Linked DNA regions of Homo sapiens: region 2 is linked to region 1. Evidence: fine-mapped expression QTL. A gene starts in region 1. The other region holds a variant in brackets. All regions are shown on one strand. Distances are from middle to middle. Region 1 holds the start of ACADS (acyl-CoA dehydrogenase short chain). Region 2 overlaps CIT (citron rho-interacting serine/threonine kinase).

The links. PIP is the estimated chance that this variant, and not a neighbour inherited with it, causes the effect.
Region 2: its variant is the best candidate, but not a certain one, in a credible set for the expression of ACADS in ovary (GTEx, PIP 0.89).

What each region holds. Positions count from the first base shown.
Region 1 is chr12:120,723,513-120,728,890 of GRCh38, reverse strand. ACADS (acyl-CoA dehydrogenase short chain) reads right to left here and starts at 3,065. Exons shown (of 10, transcript NM_000017.4): 1 at 2,960-3,065; 2 at 1,702-1,865. The coding sequence starts at 3,005. UNC119B (unc-119 lipid binding chaperone B) reads right to left here. Exons shown (of 5, transcript NM_001080533.3): 5 at 5,251-5,378. RefSeq lists a silencer at 2,746-3,255 and an enhancer at 2,892-3,393.
Region 2 is chr12:119,791,562-119,796,939 of GRCh38, reverse strand. The region is part of intron 10 of CIT (citron rho-interacting serine/threonine kinase); the gene reads left to right. Among named protein-coding and RNA genes, the nearest start is that of MIR1178, 81 kb to the right of the region's middle. The variant C/TTCAC (reference allele first, on the strand shown) is at 2,670.

The DNA of each region.
Region 1 (5,378 bases):
CTGCTGCCTTCATATCTGGGAAACGGTTAGTGGGTCCCTCATATAAAAACAATGTTTTACGTCCCTTTTAAAACTCATTTTTAAGGCCGGGTGTGGTGGCTCACGCCTGTAATCCCAGCACTTTGCGAGGCCGAGGCGGGTGGATTGCCTGAGCTCAGGAGTTTGAGACCAGCCTGGGCAACACGGTGAAACCCCGTCTCTACTAAAATACATAAAATTAGCCGGGTATGGTGGTGTGCGCCTGTAATCCCAGCTACTCGGGAGGCTGAGGCAGGAAACAATTGTTTGAACTCAGAAGGCGGAGGTTGCAGTGAGCCGAGATCGCGCCACTGCACTCCAACCTGGTGACAGAGCAAGACTGTCTCAAAAAATTTTTAAAAATAAAAAATAAATTAAAATTAAAATTAAAAAAAAAAACAGGCAAGGAGAAGAGGCCGGAGAGGTTTGACTTTTCACAAATCATTAATTAAACAACTATCTACTACTGAGTGTTTACACCAGGTGCTGGACATCTTTAGGTCAGCGTGTACGGCAGTAACATCTTCAACGCGTAGCTGCAGACAGACTGAATGCAAATGGAAGAACACAGTGGCACGGGAGGGAGCGCGCTGATGGGAAACTCAGGGGAGAAAACAGTTCAAGCAGGCCGGGCACGGTGGCTCACGCCTGTAATCCCAGCACTTTGGGACGCCAAGGCGGGCAGATCGCCTAAGGTCAGGAGTTTGAGACCAGCCTGCCCAACATGGAGAAACCCCATCTCTACTGAAAGTACAAAAACTAGCTGGGCGTGGTGGTGCCCGCCTGTAATCCCAGCTACTGGGGGCCGAGGCAGGAGAATTGCTTGAACCCAGGAGGCAGAGGGGTGCAGTGCGTTGAGATTGCGCCACTGCCCTCCAGCCTGGGCAACAGAGCGAGAGTCCATTTCAAAAAAAAATAAGTAAATAAAAAAGAAAATAGGTCGAGCAGGCTGCCGCTGATGAGCTCCATGACCTTGGGTATGTTATTTAACTTGTTCACAAGTCTGAGTCCATGGGGTATATAATAATACTACCTTTGGCCGGGCGTGGTGTCTCACACCTGTAATCCCAGCACTTTGGGAGGCCGAGGTGGGCAGATCACCTGAATTCAGGAGTTTGAGACCAGCCTGGCCAACATGGTGAAACGCCGTCTTTACTAAAAATACAAAAGTAGCGGGGCAGAGCAGTGCACGCCTATAATCCCAGCTACTTGGGAGGCTGAGGCAGGAGAATCACTTGAACTCAGGAGGCAGAGGCTGCAGTGAGGCGAGGTCGCACCATTGCACTCCAGCCTGAGCCACAAGAGTGAAACTCCGTCTCAAAAAAATAAATAAGAATAGTACCTTCACCTCACAGGACCGTTGTGAGGAACAGATGAGATAACCCATCTCAAGAACAGTGCCTAGTGCATGCCAAACACCCTAAAGGCACTATTTAGAATGAGCACAGTGGCTGGCACAGTAAGCAACTGACCATCCACCACATATTACTGTTGTCCCAGAAGTTAAGTCCTGGCTACTGGCCACAGGCTGGACAAGGGAAACTTCCAGAGCATTTTCTGGGTTCCAGGCCCTGCTTTGGGGTTCCTCTACCAGAGTCCGAGTGCCGCTGACTGTCACTGCCACCATTCATCCAGTAGCAGAGGGCAGACCACTATCGTGGGCTGCTGAGGTTGCACTCTCACCTGAGCCGCTGGGAAGAGATGTTCCTTATCCACCTGGGCTGCAATGGGAAACAACTCCTTCTCGGCAAAGTCCCGGCATGTCTGGAGCAACATCTGGTGTGTCTCGGGCAGTTCCACAGACTGGTAGATGGTGTGTAACTGCCGCCAGGCCCTAGGACAGAGAGCTGCCGGCAAGGGCAGAAGTGAGTGGAAGGAGGAGGCAGGAGGTCTCCAAGAATCCTAGTGACCCACTAACTCACCAGGGAGGATTTTGCCCTCCAAGGGACATCTGGCAATGTCTGGAGCCAGTTCTAGTTGTCACAACTAGAGCAGGGGAATACTATTGGTACCCAGTGGATAGGGGTCCGGGATCCCTGCTGAACATCCAACAAGGCAGAGGACAGCCCCCACAACAAAGAACTGTCAGCCCAAAATGTCCATGGCGGCCACTGAAAACCCCATACTAACTGAATGCTTAGTACACTCACTAGACATTTCCATACACTACATCCTTCAGTCCTCAGTATAATACCAACAGTAATAAGACCTCAGCTCTGTGACCTTAGGCAAGGGTTTTAAACGTCAGTGAGCCTCCGTTTCTATAACAAGTGGAGGCGAATAGTATTCCGCTCCTCGGAGTGCGAAAGAAAGACTAACTAGCGCTTAACACAGTTCTCAGTAGCGTTCCCCTTGTAATTCAGGCCAGGCAAAGGAAGCCGTGGCTATATGTGTCACGGCTGCTACAACTGGAGACACGTAAGATGGGAAAGGTACTGTATTAACCAGCAAGAACGAGCATTTGTGGAACACCTGTTACACGCCAGGCACGAAGTGCTTTACATACCCTATGATTTAATCCTCCCAACAACTCTGATTTTCTCTGTGGACATTTTACACATGGGCCAACCGAGGCTGAGGAGGGGCTGTCTTGCCCAAGGTCACAGATGCGGGTCTGGTTCAATCCCAGGCCTGGCTCCGGAAGAAGGACGCACCCTGAACCTCTAGTGGGGGTGAAATGAAGGGAGGGAGATATGGGAACTGGGAACTGGGCTGGTGGCTGGGGTCAATCGGGGGGTAGGGGTCTGTGCAGGAACCAGGGACGCCTGAAGGGCCGGGCTGGGTCGGCGCAAGGAGCAGCAGAACTGGGGCAAAGGCCGTGAGCGCTCCCGGAGTGGGGCTCCGCCTGCCAGCGGCTCTGACAGAGCCGGCCGCCAGGACCTCCGCCCGCTGGGCCAGACGCGGGCTGAAGCCCCGCCGTACGGATCCCCAGCGCACTCACCTCTGCGGGCAGGGCCCGAGGCCCGGGCGAGCAGCGCGGCGGCCATGGGCGACAGACACAGTCCCAGGCTTCGCGACCTCCCGCTGCGAGCGCGCTGTTCCGGAGTGCTGGGGGGCGGGACCCGGGACAGAGGCCACGCCCGTAGGGCCTCGGGAGCGGGGCCGAGGTGCGCTCGCGGCCAGGGGGCGGGGCCTCCAGTGGTCCCTCCCAAGGCGAGGAACCGACGCTCGACTGCGCGCGCGGTCGGTCAGCTGGCTGTTCGTGCCCACATTCGTTAATCAAAATGCTAACAAGAGAAAGCTAAGGATAGAGCTTCGCAGAAAGGCCAGAGAGGTCTTTTTAAAGCATAAATAAGATAGCGATCTTCGGGTTAAAACTTTGTTGGCTTTGTCGGCGGGCCCATCCCTCCTAAAATCCAATTCTATGGCTTAAAAAGCCAAGACCTGCCTTGTCTATCAGGGCCCATGCCCACCGTTCCCTGGTTATTGTTGCTTAGCTTTACGAGGCAGCTCTTCTCTAAGACCCTTAGCTGGTTCCTGACTCGGGGCCTCTGTGATCACTGTTCCTTTTGTCTGGAATGCCCCCTCTTCGTTTAGGTCTCATGGATGCCTGCCCTGACCACACCAAGCCGTTTCTCCCCCTCTGGCTCTCTATCTTTCGTTCTGTTTATTCAAGGCACTTTGCATCTGAAATTATCTGCTTCCCCGACTCGCTCCGAGAAGCTCAAGGACCTGTCTTGTGTTGGTGCTCAATATTTAGGCCCCTGGAGTTGGGCTGCAAGGAAAGCTTTCTTTTCCCCAGAGGCTGTGAAGGTGGGTGGAGATGCTACCCCCGTTCCACTTCAGTACTGTGTCTCATTCCCGATTGGGGCAGAACCCAGACACATATTTGACCCCTAGCATCCTCATCAGGACACCTTTGCCCCGCCCAAGAAACTATGCTGATTTTACTTGTCCCATAAGGGTCTTCTCTTGTGCAAGTGTGATTCTGATTCCCATAGCCTCCTGGGCACCACCCACGCCCTCCCAGGCACCCACACATCCCTCCAACTGCCTTTCTTTCCCAGCACTCAGCCAGGCAGGCATCTGTTCCCAGCATTGACCTATTTGCCAAAACTTCTGTCTCTTCCTCTTGGAGGAAAGTGGAAACCTCGGTCACTACTTCCTAGAAGAAAGCCAATCAAAAGATGCAGCAAAGTCCTTAATGTGTTACCTTTCTTTTTAAATAATGCATTTAAAAGAACGCCTCTAAATTCTCAGTACTTTAAAGTCAAATGAATGGCTCCCATTGGCAAATGCTCTAAGGGCTTCCTCACCTTTCCGTCATCCCACCTGGGAACCAGCCCTGGGTGGAAGAAACGATGAAGAAGCAGGAGAAAAGGGAGAAATAAGTGAGTTGTGTTTGTGAGCAAAGGCCAATAATTGCTTCAGGTGCCACAGAGCATCTAAACCAGACTCTTGAGAATTTGTGACTGTAAATATGAACGTTCAAATTTCATTTTAAAAGTATCCAAGTTTTCCAATAGAGACAGAATCAGATAGTGGTTGCAAGAGGCGAAGTGGGGGAAGTCACCTGGCTGCAAACACAAGGAACTCAGGAACTTTCTGAGTGGGTACGATGGAAATGTCCTATATCATGATTGTGATGGGTAATAAAAGTATTCATTTGTCAAAATGCATCAATACTCTTAATTGAGGTAAATTTTACTGTAGTTAAAGTATTTCTTAATAAGCCTACCTTTATGGCCAGCCACAGTGGCTCACACCTGTAATCCCAGAACTTTGGGAGGCCAAGGCGGGTTGATCACCTGAGGTCAGGAGTTCAAGACCAGCCTGGCCAACATGGGGAAACCCTGTCTCTACCAAAAATACAGAATTAGCCGGGCGTGGTGGCATGCACTTGTAATCCCAGCTACTTGGGAGGCTGAGGCAGGACAATCACTTGAACCCGGGAGGCGAAGGGTGCAGTGAGCCACCATCATGCCATCACATCCCAGCCTGGGAAAAAAGAGCGAAACTCCATCTCAAAAAAAAAAACCCTACCTTTAAAACATGCATGTAAACTTTCAATTTACAAAGCCACTCACCCTGGGAAAATATAAAGCAAAAATATTAAGCCTAAAGTCCAGTACAATTCCTCAATCACCCTAGAAGCCAGCTATACTCTAGTTCAACTACTTACAGAAGGGCCACATAATAGCCAAAGTAAGAGAAACCTGGAGCCCCCATTCGCCCCTGCTCCCCTCAGCAACACAACGGGCCCAACAATCAGGAGACAGGACGAGGGAGACGTACTGTGAAAATCTTTCTTTTATTACTGTCTCATGTGGCAAAATAACATTTTATACAAATAAGTCACCTAGTTTACTTTGGACACAAAGACAATAAAAACTGGAATGTGATTTTGGGGGAAGCGGGAA
Region 2 (5,378 bases), 930 kb after region 1:
TGTACCTAACCACCAAATCTGGTGATTTCCATCTCACCACGTGATACCATTAATACTACCTTTCTTCGAGACAACGTTCTACTTTCTTCTCTTCTGTATTATGGACACTTGGTTTCCCTCCTACCTCTCTGACTGTCATTCTCACTCTTTTGTGGCTGCCATCAGGCTCTTGCAATGTACGTACCATCTCCTCAAGTTCCATCCTCAGTTATCTTTCTAGTTGGTTCTTGGTGATCTCATTCAGTTCCTTGACTTTAGTTCTTACCTCCCCATGGCCTCCTCCCATCGTACACTGTGTTCCTCATCACCAGGATGTTTTACCAGTTTCTCACCATCCCATCCTCTGTTCCCTTCCTACATAGACAGACCCACTCGCTCACTCAGTAAGCCACTAGGTGCTAGTTTTGGCTTCTTCATTTTATGTAAGAAACTACCACCTTCCCTACCCTTCTAGGCAAGAAAGCTGAGTCATCGTAAATTCTTTTCTGCCTCCCCCGCCATCCCATCAGTTGCCAATTTCTCCAAGTGGTGCCTCTAGGATGCCACTTGCATCCATACCCATCTTTCTTCCTCATTGGCACCCATCATGGACTCTTGCTTGGTCTGGTGCAGTAGCCTCCTCAGTGATTCCCTTGCCTCTGGTTTTCCTGGCTGTAATCCATTCTCCACAAAGGGTGGAATTCTTCCAAAGCATAGGTTGGATGATGTCATTCACCGGCTTACACCTTCAACAGCATCCCAGTGTGCTCATAATTAATGGCTGCTCCTGAACTTGGTATTCAGTCTTGGTATGCCAAGACCCCAGCCTGCCGGCTCATTTGTGTCTCCTCATCCCCTACTGAATCACTTCAATAGTGTTGTCTGGCCAAGCTGTTCAAGGCTCATTAAGGACAGGACCAGGTCTTCCTTCTTTTGCCTGAAACAGTGCCTTGCCCCTGGCAGGTCTTCAATGAACATTTGTTGAATTGAATTAGACTAAAATGGCCAGGGATTATACCAATTCCTTCTGCACAGTGTAGACAACTGCTAATGGAACCTGTTTTCTGTAGAGCACTTCTTGTGTTCCCAGAACTATGCGAGTACTTTATGTGCATTATCTCATTAAATCATCACAATCTCACTGTAACTCTATGAGGTAGCTGATATTATCCCCATTTTACAAATGAAGACACTGATTCAGGAAGATTAGATTATTTTCCTGAGGTTCTGAAGGTAGAAACACATCTAAGACTTGGAGCAATATCTGGTTGCCTCTAGACCACTGTACTATCTACCCTGCCTCTAAGAGCCATGACTTTGCTAGATTATGCAGGAGTTATGGACTTGTCTAATAGTAAAGGTAAAAGAATTGGTTTTAATGAGAATCTACTCTTCTAGGTACTATTCTGAGTGCCTGACAAGCATTCTCATGTAGACCCAGCAATAACTCATTATTTTACAGATAGAGAAAATGATGATCATGATGCTTGGGTTACTTCTTAGGTTCACTCAGCTCACATCTGGCAGAGGGTGGTCAACTTTTCCAAGTTTTAACTTATTTATTTATTTATTTTGAGACAGAGTCTCATTCTGTTGCCCACGCTGGAGTACGGTGACACAATCTCAGCTTATTGCAACCTCCGCCTCCCAGGTTCAAGCGATTCTTGTGCCTCAGCCTCCCGTGTAGCTGGGATTACAGGTGCCTGCCACCACGCCCAGCTAATTTTGTTTTTGTATTTTTAGTAGAGGCTGGGTTTCACCATGTTGGCCAGGCCTGTCTTGAACTCCTGACCTCAAGTGATCTGCCAGCCTCGGCCTCCCAAAGTGTTGTGATTACAGATGTGAGCCACCACGCCTGGCTCAACTTTTAACTTTAGAACTGATATAAACATGCCTATTTTTTTGGGACTGACTGTAGCATACCCATTCAAAGTCCAGGCTTTGGAATCAGACAGACGTGGGCTGAACTCAGGGTTTCACCCCTTGCTTGTTGTGTGAATGAGACATTTCACTGCTTTCAGCCTCAATTCCCTCATCTGTAAAGTGGAAGGTGTAAGGTCGCCTATCTGATAGGTTTGCCATGGGGATATGAAGCACACTTAGTGTTGGTGCCATGAGTAGAATGAGTGTTCATTTCATATTTGTTAATGTTATTTAGGTCCGAGGATGGGTATGGGGTGCTTTGGACTCTCTTTTTCTCCCTGCTTCCGCCTTATAAAGACATCTTGCTGGTTTCTGCCCATTGAGAGAATCCAGCTCCACGTGGGGGGCCTGACAGATGTCCTAATATCTCCATCTAATTTTTTACTCTGAATGGAGTCTGTGATGTATCACTTCAACCTGCACTTTCTATAAAATGCTCTCCAGGCTTCTGGTAGGATCCAGTGCCAGTGGGAAGTGTGCATGTTCCCAGCCTAGATGTCACATGCTCCCACCCACCCTGGAAGCACTTGGGTATCCCCTGGATGGGTAAGTCTGTGTGTCATTGTGCCATTCCTGTCTCAGAACCAATGCTGGGCATCTCTACTTGCAGGTGCTGGAAAGCTTTTTCATGCCAGCATACATGCAGCACACTTCTCATTTTGGATTCCTTTATCCCACGGTGACCTTTAAACTGGCTGCCTGGGGGCACAGAAGTACTAGCACACCATTCACTTATTTATTCATTCATTCATTCATTCATTCATTCA[C/TTCAC]TCAACAAATATATTGTTCTAGTCCTTAAGGCACAACTCTGAGCAAGACAGGTAAGGTCTTTACTCTCAAGAAGCTAGCATTTGGTGGGGAGAAACAAAGGAGAAATAACTACTGTGCACATGTGAGGCAATTGCAGATGGTGGTCTGCAGAATTGGGATTGAGACTGCCTGGGGGTGGCCACTTTAGACTGGGTCCGCAAGGAAAGGTTCTCTGAGCTGAGCATGAGTATTTGTTCAAGAAGGCTGAGTTGCATCCCAAGGTGACACAGCTTTTAAGCCCACACTGAGCAGCTCTGAGGTCCTAGGGGCTGTTCGAGAACCTGGGATATAGCACTGACTATGAGACAAAAATCCCTGTCTTCATGGAGCTTACATGATGGGGGCAGATTCACATTCATTCATTTGTTCATTAATTCATTAATTCATTCAGCTATTTGAGAGCCTACTATGTGCCAAGCACTTTCTAGGCACTGGAGAAGTAACAGTGAATGCAAAGGAGCAAGCATCCCTGCCCACACAGAGTGCATTCTTCCAGAATATCAATAAGGAGTCGGTTAGCAAAAATAAGTGGGAAGAGTATTCCAGAGAGAGGAAAAAAGGGCAAAGGCCCTGAGGCTGCCACTAACCTATGGGTGCTCAATGAACAGAAGGCATGTTTGGGTAGGGGGTACTTAAGGATACACAAGGAACATGGTCTGAGCTGAGGTCATCAGGGCCTTTAGGTATGGACTTTGCTCTAAATTGCACTGAGTAGGAAGCTTTTGCAGGATTTTGAATAGGGTCATGGAATATCTGGGTCTTATTTCACAAAGTGTGCCTCTGACCATTGTGTGGAGGGTGGATAGTGAGGGACAAGAGTTGGATCCAGGGAGGTAAGTGTGGTTATTGCAGTCATCCAGGTGAGAGGCAATGAAATTAACCTGCAAAGTGAGGCACTGGCTTAGAGGTGGGAACTGAATTAAAAATCATGGGACTAGCTATTCTTTTATTAATAGCATGATTTTTGATAAATGATTCTGGAGCTACATATTAATCATTTCAAAGCAAGTGCTCTAATTTAACTAGAGACCACTGCTGGTTGTGTGTGTGAGTGCATATGTGTGTATGTATATGAGTATGTGTGGTGTGTGTCAGTATGTATATGTGTGTATGGTATATATATAAATATATATATTGTGTGTGGTGGGGGAGGGGGGGTGCCCCAAAGCTAGACAGACTCTGACTGTCTTTAGGGGAATAGTGTTTTTGATATTTCCAGGTGTTCCTGATGGGCACCATTGTTATTTTATTTTATTTTTATTTTATTTTTGAGACGGAGTCTCACTCTGTCGCCAGGCTGGAGTGCAGTGGCGCTATCTCGGCTCAAGACAACCTCCGCCTCCCAGGTTCAAGCAATTCTCCTGCCTCAGCCTCCCGAGTAGCTAGGACTACAGGTGCGTGCCACCACACCCGGCCACCATTGTGTATTTTAAAGTGTGCTTATAAAATTAGTTCAGAGGCCAGATGTGGTGGCCCACGCCTGTAATCCAAGCACTTTGGGAGGCCGAGGCGGGTGGATCATGAGGTTGGGAGACCGAGACCATCCTTGCCAACGGGGTGGTGAAACCCCATCTCTACTAAAAATACAAAAAAATTAGCTGGGTACAGTGGCGCGTGCCTGTAGTCCCAACTACTCCGGAGGACAAGGCAGGAGAATTGCTTGAACCTGGGAGGTAGAGGTTGCAGTGAGCCGAGATCGCACCACTGCACTCCAGCCTGGTGACAGAACAAGACTCCATCTCTAAATAAATAAATAAAACAAGTTCACAAATTTCGGAATGCTCAATCTTAAAAGCCAGTATATTTTTGGAAACGGAATGCTGATGAGTTTTTTATTTTTTGCAGCATATTACATCTTGCAGTTGCATGTATTTTTAGTGCTGTTGGCCAGCACTAAAGGTGGGGCCCTCAGCTGAGCTAATTTTGAGTCCCCTCATTTTGGCTTCAAGTATACTCATTCTTGGTTTTCCCAAGAATATCTGGGATTTGTGATCTGTGTTATCTGTGGTTTGGTGTCGTATTTTGCAGGCATAGGGTCCTATTCCTAAGGGAATAAATGGATGGCTTGATGCTTAAGCACGAACTTAATCATCGCAGTAGTGATTAAAGAGTATTCAACATGTACACTTGCTTGTAGGAAGGAGTACACATTGTATTCTCTTTTGATATGCAATATTTTATTCATAGCCCTATTAAGTAATTTTTTTTAACAAAGTTATATGGATTATTTACAGGTACATCACGGGAAAACTGCATTTTATAATTTTCACTGAAATGTTGAGGTTACATGTAAAGCAATTTTTATGTCATATCTGATACATTTTAAGAAAACATGTCTTCCTGTTACAGCGGTAATGACCATGCCTGCTCTTTCTTCTGTGTCATATGCCATTATCCCTATTAATACTCTTTGGGCTTCTATAATTATAAAGCAGATGTGTATATCAGGGAGAGATGTTGATTTCAGAGTAAGTTTTTCTAGAAAATAGAAGCTGGAAAAAAAAGGAAAACCCAAACTTGGCTTCGTGCTCGAAGAGACAGCACTGCTGTGTGTGGGCGGGTGGCTGCGTGCACCCGCTGCTCAGAAGTGCCTTTTCTCTCCATGGGGATAACTGGCTGTGTATCCGAGATGTGGCCAGGAGTAGGCAAGCAACGTGTGGGCAGGCTGC